2 linked regions of the Homo sapiens genome follow. The protein of the gene in region 1 purifies or fractionates together with the protein of each later gene. This does not show direct contact. Each region holds a gene or a part of one and is shown in the gene's direction. Other genes may lie near its edges. The genes, in order: PHF13 and BLVRA.

What was found.
Region 2: the proteins of PHF13 (region 1) and BLVRA purify together in Homo sapiens (affinity purification with mass spectrometry; one large-scale study listed by BioGRID and IntAct). This does not show direct contact.

What each region holds. Positions count from the first base shown.
Region 1 is NC_000001.11:6,616,597-6,620,411, forward strand, and holds part of PHF13 (PHD finger protein 13), read left to right. Parts: intron 1-160; coding exon 161-262; intron 263-3,206; coding exon 3,207-3,741; intron 3,742-3,815. UniProt on the Homo sapiens protein: Modulates chromatin structure and DNA damage response by regulating key determinants of chromatin compaction and DNA damage response.
Region 2 is NC_000007.14:43,786,106-43,789,920, forward strand, and holds part of BLVRA (biliverdin reductase A), read left to right. Parts: intron 1-1,798; coding exon 1,799-1,920; intron 1,921-3,815. UniProt on the Homo sapiens protein: Reduces the gamma-methene bridge of the open tetrapyrrole, biliverdin IXalpha, to bilirubin with the concomitant oxidation of a NADH or NADPH cofactor. Does not reduce bilirubin IXbeta.

The sequences.
Region 1 (3,815 bases):
CTTGACCTGAACTTACCGTATCTTGTTTGTGGACTGTGTAAATCTAACGGTATTTTTTGAGTGATTGACTACAAAAGTTCCAGCTTACTTCCTTTTGTTTCTGTGATTCCGCCTGGAAGCCTCTCCTTCAAACACATTCCCTTTTCTCTCCCCTTAATAGGAATACTCCCCCAGTTGCAAGAGGCGCAGGACCGTGGAAGACTTCAACAAATTCTGCACCTTTGTCTTGGCCTATGCTGGCTACATCCCTTATCCGAAGGAGGTAATCTTCTGAGTTTCTGAGACCTTTCTTGATGAGTAGTCAAACCCAGTGCCTCCACCGCAAGTTCGTGGGCTTCTGACTGGTCAGAGGGTCAGTAGGTTTGGAAGGGGCTGCTTGTGGTGACCCCAGTCACTAGTCTGGCAGAAATCTGTTTCTTGAGAGTTTGAATTAGCTGGGGAAATGGTTCTAAAACTCTGGTAAAAACTCTGGTAGAAAATGCAGGCTTGTCTAGAAAATGATTTAGTAAACTTTCTTTTTTTTTGGAATGGAAACTTGCTCTGTCGCCCAGGCTGGAGTGCAGTGTCGTAAAACTCCACCCCCGGGTTCAAGGGATTCTCCTGCCTCAACCTCCTCAGTAGTTGGGATGACAGGCGTGCGCCACCACGCTAATTCTTTTTTGTATTTTTGGTAGAGACAGGGTTTTACCTTGTTGGCCAGACTGGTCTCGAACTCCTGACCTCAGGTGATTCACCTGCCTCGGCCTCCCAGAGTGCTGGGATTACAGGCGTGAGCTACCGCCCAGCCGATTTAGTAAACTTTCAGTTTATTTACAAATAAAATATGTGATATTTGCTTGCTCTTTTTGTTTGTTTGTTTGAAATGGAGTCTGGCTCTGTCGCCCAGGCTGGAGTGCCGTGGTGCAATTGTGGCTCACTGCAACCTCTGCCTCCTGGGTTCAAGCGATTCTCCTGTCTCAGCCTCATGAGTAGCTGGGCGCGCCACCACACCCAGCTAGTTTTTTGTATTTTTACTAGAGACGGGGTTTCACCGTGTTGTCGAGGCTGGTCTCGAACTCCTGACCTCATGATCCACCCGCCTCGGCCTCCCAAAAGTGCTGGGATTACAAGCGTTGAGCCACTGCACCTGGCTGTCTGCTTGCTTTTAATAAGGGTCTGTAGTTACTGACTGTTGACCATAGCTGGACACTATTCTTGGCCTATGTAATGCTATGAGGTAGGTGCTATTTTTTATCTCCAGTTTATAAGCTGAGGAAACTAAGGCATAGAGAGGGAAAACTTTGTCTTAGGTCACCCACTGATTAGTGGTGGAGCTTGGGGTTCAACCAGATGGCTGGACTCAGTGCACACGCTGCCTCTGTCTCAGCTCCCTGGCTGCCCGAAATGCGTATGATTGTCTTCAGGGACTCATGGCTGCAACTTGATGTAGATGAAGGAGGTTTTTTCACTTGCTGAGAACAGGGCAGGACTGGAGGAGAGCGGCTGTGGTGCTCAGACTTCAGGCCTCTTTCGTATTCGATTAAGCTCAAAATTGAACAATCCAGCTTTTTTTTTTTTGCGACAGGTCTTGCTCTGTTGCCCAGGCTGGAGTGCAGTGGCACAGTCTTGGCTCACTGCAGCCTCTTTCTCCTGTGCTGAAGTGATCCTCCCACCTCAGCCTTCCAAGTAGCTGGGACTACAGGCCCACCACCACACCCACCTAATTTTTGTATTTTTAGTAGATACAAGGTTTCGCCATGTTGCCCAGGTTGGTGTCAAACTCCTGGCCTCAAGTGACCCACCTGCCTTGGCTTCCCAAAGTGCTAGGATTACAGGCGTGAGCCACTGCGTTTGGCCGTAATTTTATTTTTTGTAGAGACAAGGTCTCACTGTGTTGCTGAGGCTGGTCTCGAGGTAGTGATGCTCCTGCCTTGGTCTCCCAGAGTGCTGGGTTTACAGGCACGAGCCACTGTGCCCAGCTGCATTCAGTATATTTCTAGCAGGCAAACTGCCAGCATTGGTTTATTTCCATCTGCTACATAGGTGGCTAATGCCTGCTTTCTTTTCTTTCTTTTTTTCTTTTTTTGAGACGGAGTCTTGCTCTGTGGCTCAGGCTGGAGTGTGGTGGTGCGATCTCAGCTCACTGCAACTTCTGCCTCCTGGGTTCAAGCAATTCTCCCTGCTTCAGCCTCCCAAGTAGCTGGGATTACAGGTGTCAGCCATCATGCACAGCTAATTTTTTTGTATTTTTGGTAGAGAGGGGGTTTCACCATGTTGGCCAGGCTGGTGTCGAACTCCTGAGCTCAGGTGATCTACCCGCCTCAGCCTCCCAAAGTGCTGGGATTACAGGTGTGAGCCCCCGCACCCAGCCTAATGCCTGTTTTCTAGCAAGACAAGGAGGACGTTGCCACTGTTTGCAAATGATATGCTTGTGATCTGAATGAACCATAGAGTTTACTTCACTGCTTTGGGGCAGTAATTACCTACTTGGATTCTGCAATATTTTGGAATGTCTAGTTTTTTAAGAGTGTCAGGAAATTCTCAAAACTAATTTAAATTCACTTAAAACAATATATCTCTTGGGAGGGCAAATGGAAGGAGAGGTTTTACAATCAGGGAACAATGAGCAGATAGGAGTGGGTGTCCACAGCACTCCTTCCCACAGACACCTGTTGCACACTGATGAATTTTCTGTCTCTAAGATGGGGCTGAGGGTTCAGCAGGGAGTTTCTCTCTTCGTGGCATCACATTAAACTCATGGCACTGATGGCACTGGGTTTTTTTTTTTTTGAGACACAGAATCTCCCTCCCGTTACCAAGGCTGGAGTGCAGTGGCTCACTGCAACATTTGCCTCCCGGGTTCAAGCGATTCTCCTGCCTCAGCCTCCCAAGTAGCTGGGACTACAGGCACCACCACCACGCCCAGCTAATTTTTGTATTTTTAGTAGAGATGGGGTTTCACCATGTTGGCCAGGTTGGTCTTGAACTCCTGGTCTCAGGTGATCCGCCTGCCTTGGCGTCCCAGAGTGCTGGGATTACAGGTGTGAGCCACCACGCCCAGCCAGAACTCATGTTACTGTTGCTTCAAGTGTGATGCTGATGGGCAGAGAAGCTCAAAGTTGTGCAGATGTCTCTGGAGGTCTGACATGGCTGGGTGGCTGGGGATGCTCTGCTCTGGGCTGGATCTTGTCACCAGTAACTGGAATCTGCCACCTTTGTCTTTTTAGGAACTCCCTTTAAGGAGCAGCCCCAGCCCTGCTAACAGCACTGCTGGTACCATTGACAGCGACGGCTGGGACGCGGGTTTCTCAGACATCGCGTCCTCAGTGCCCTTGCCAGTCTCTGACCGCTGCTTTAGCCACCTGCAGCCTACTCTCTTGCAGCGAGCCAAGCCCAGTAACTTCCTGCTGGACAGAAAGAAAACGGACAAGCTGAAGAAGAAGAAGAAGAGGAAGCGCAGGGACAGTGATGCGCCTGGGAAAGAGGGGTACAGGGGGGGCTTGCTGAAGCTGGAAGCCGCTGACCCCTACGTGGAGACCCCCACGAGTCCCACCTTGCAGGATATCCCCCAGGCTCCCAGCGACCCCTGCTCGGGCTGGGACTCCGATACTCCCTCGAGTGGATCTTGTGCCACTGTGTCACCTGATCAGGTCAAAGAAATAAAAACTGAAGGCAAACGGACTATCGTCCGGCAGGGAAAGCAGGTGGTGTTCCGAGATGAGGACAGCACTGGCAATGATGAGGACATCATGGTGGACTCAGGTGAGTGGTCCCTGAAGGATGATGACCCTTGTTGGCTTGTGGTTAGAAGAGAGGTTATTTTATTAAGTGGTCAT
Region 2 (3,815 bases), on another chromosome or scaffold:
AAAAAGCAAGACCTAACTATATGCTGCCTATAAGAAACTAACTATAGCTATGAAAACACATATAGATTAAATGTGAAAGGTTGGGGAAAAAATGTATTATGCAACACTGATCAACAGAAATTGGGAATGGATTGTTAATATCAGACAAAATAAATTATAGGGCAAAAAATATTACCAGGAATAAAAATGGTCATTTTAGAAAGATAAAGGGGTCAATTAAAAAAAAGGACATAACCATCCTAAACTTGTATGTATCTAATAACAGAGTTTTGAAATATGTGGGTCAAAACTGATAGAACTGAAAGGAGAAATACACAGTTATATACAATTATATTCAGAGATTTCTCTACCCTCAATAATTGCTAGAGCAAGGAGACAGAAAATCAGGAAGGATACGAAGACCTGAACAACACAATCAACCAACTTGATCTAACAGACTTATAGAACACTCCACCCAACAATAGCAGAATACACATTCTTTTCAAGTGTGCCCAGAACATTAACCAAGGTAGACCACATCCCGTATCATAAAATATCTCAATAAATCTAAAAGGATTCAAATCATTTAAAGAATGTTCTCTGACCACAGTGGGATTAAATGAGAAATCAATAATAGAAAAACATTTGGCAAATCCCCAAACATTTGGAAGAAATCCTGGAAGGAGAAGACAAGAGCAGTGGGCACAGGAAGAGGGGCAGAGTCAGTGGGAAGTGGTGACAACTGGGTACAGAGGTGAAGAAAAGGGGCAAATCTGAGATGACATTCATGTTTCTATGCTCAGAGGCATCCAAGAAGTGAGTTTAAGGGATGCATGGAGATAATTTTTTTTTTTTTGAGATAGAGTCTCACTCTGTCACCCAGGCTGGAGTGCAGTGGCGCTATCTTGGGTCACTGCAATCTCCGCCTCCCAGGTTCAAGCAATTCTCCTGCCTCGGCCTCCTAAGTAGCTGGGATTACAGGCGCCTGCCAACAGGCCCAGCTAATTTTTGTATTTTTAGTAGAGACGAGGTTTCTCCATGTTGGCCAGGCTGGTCTGGAACTCCTGACCTCAAGTGATCCACCTGCCTCGGCCTCCCAAAGTGCTGGGATTACAGGCGTGAGCCACCGTGCCCAGTGCATGGAGATAAATTTTATCAGTTTTTATTATACTGAGTTGCTGTATAACTTAAAAGTCAGTTTGATTTTTCACTGTAATACTGTTCACATACAGCCTCCAGCAGTGCACTTAAATAATATTTAAGATACTGCAGTATCTTAAATGTGGAACTCAGAAGGCTGTAGTGAAGAGTCAAAGCCTCTGGATCCCACGCTGAGTAAGGTGACCAATCATGGTTTGCCCATTTGCCTCCTCTGCCAGCATCTGATGAAGAAGCTGTGCCCTCTGAATGACTCCCAGTAGTATCAGATTCATGTGTCCACTGGAGGAGGGACCCAGGGAGGGCAGAAGTACCAGGCCATGGGCTGGGTCTGGGTTAATGGGGAAAGCTCCCTCATTATTGGAGATGGGGCAGTAGAAGTGGAGAGCCAAATTGGGGGAACACTTTCTGTGGGTACTCGGAAGGTTTTCAACCTAAAGACATGGTGGAGCACCTTCAAGAACAGGTTTTGGCGGGACTGACTTCTCTCCAAGCCCCCATTTCGGGGACTGTCTCATCCCATCCTGATGCTGTGGCTTCCTGTGTGTTTTGGGCTGGCTTCCATCTTGCTCGTCGGGACCCTGCCAGCTCCTTTGTTTTGTAGTTTTCTGCTCGATGCCTACAGTGTTTTCAGACTCCACCTTGGTCCCTTGTGTTTCAGCCCGAGAGGAAGTTTGGCGTGGTGGTGGTTGGTGTTGGCCGAGCCGGCTCCGTGCGGATGAGGGACTTGCGGAATCCACACCCTTCCTCAGCGTTCCTGAACCTGATTGGCTTCGTGTCGAGGTGGCTCACAATGTCTTTGTGCTTCATAATTCATGGAAAGCCCAGTGAGGCGGATTAGCTGCAGGACATGGAGATTTTCCAGACCCAGGGCAGGGAGAGCCATCTCCCAACTGAGAACTGTGCTTAGGGTCAGCCCCATAAGATCTCAGGTTGGGATGGGTCTGGGAACTGAAGCTTGCTGGGCCTGCAGCTGGGATGCACAGTAGGTTGGCCTGGGAGACTGGAAGACAGAGGCAGGAGGGTGAGCTCAAGGCTGACAGTTAGAGAAGGGGCACAGAAAACACATGCATGGGGCTTTGGCCTGAAAGGCTTTCGGTGTGCACCGGGGAATCCTGACATAGTCATCATGACAGCCATCCTAGGTGGTCCTGGGCTCTACATGTGATATTTCCTTCTGCGTAGTGTTATTAACCCCCCAGTTTACAGATAAGGAGGCTGAACCACAGAAAGGTTAAGTAATCTGCCTGAGGTCACACAGCTGGAAAGTCTAAGAACTGAAGTTGAGCAGAAGTCTGTTTCCAAAGCCCATCTTTTAAACACCATGTGTTCTTTTGCCATTGGTAATTTTGAGCCTCACTTTTATTATTATTATTATTTTTTTTGAGACAGAGTCTCACTCTGTCACCCAAGCTGCAGCGCAATGGTGCAATCACAGCGCACTGCAGCCTTGACCGTCTGGGCTCAAGTGATCCTCCCGCCTCACAGCTCAAGTGGTCCTCCTGCCTCAGCCTTCTGAGTAGCTGGGACTACAGACACACACACCACCACGCCTGGATAATTTTTTTTTTTTTTTTGTAGAGACAGGGTCTCCCTATGTTGCCTAGACTGGTCTCAAACTCCTGGGGTCAAGTGATCCTCCTGCCTCGGCCTCCCAAAGTGCTGAGATTATAGGCGTGAGCCAGTGCACCCAGCCTCCCCCTTTTCTTTAAGGATTCATTTATCTCCAGTCAAAATCAAACTTATCACCTTGTTTCTTCTTCCCCCATGCTCAAATTTTCCACTCACCCCTGTACACACACACACACACACGCACCACTCACCAGACTAATCCTGTATAACATCATTTGTCAATATTAATTGTGAACTAGATACAGGCACCAGACTAATCCTGTGTAACATCATTTATCCATATTAATTTTGGACTAGGTGCAGGCACTGGGCTGGGCCTGAAGACATGGTAGTGAGCAAGTTAGGCAACTCTTTTTCTAGTGCTTTAGAGACATCAGATAAATATTTACACAAAGCATAAGTAACAATTGTGATAGTCTATGTAGAAATTTTTTCATGTTTTCATTCATGGGGCCATCCTCTTCCGGCCTGTCTCAAAACATGGCCCCACTTTTAAGGATTTAAAATGGGCTTGGAAGCACCAGGGAGACCCAGAAGTGCTAGAATCTGCCCTTGGGCCAGCCTTCTCCTCCCCATAAGATTCCAAGGGAGCTGCACACAAATGGGAGAGCAAAGTTAAGATCAGGCAGCACCGTAACCCCCATCGCACCCCTATCTGGAGCTGGGACCACACACAGCACTTGGGCGCAAGGCTGAAATGGGACCTTTCCTTTTCCCTTAAGCCCCAGTCCTCTGCCAGTTGGCTTCCAGGGTCAGCTCAGTGGGAACACCTACACTACCCAGGTTGTATGGGAGGATGGCCAGGTCACACCCCTGCATGACAGCCCTGCCAGTACTCACACTGTTTCCCTCTTCACATACCCTTCCCTTCCTGACCTACCTGCTAAGTTCTACCTCCTCCCCAGGAAGCTTTTCTGGTGTATTCCTTTCCCACCCTGAGTCTCCATCTCCTACTTCCAAGCACCACATTTCTCCTGGTAGTCTTGTGGTAGTGGTATGTACGTGTGTGTGTGTGTGTGTGTGTGTGTGTCTTCCTCTAGCTGACT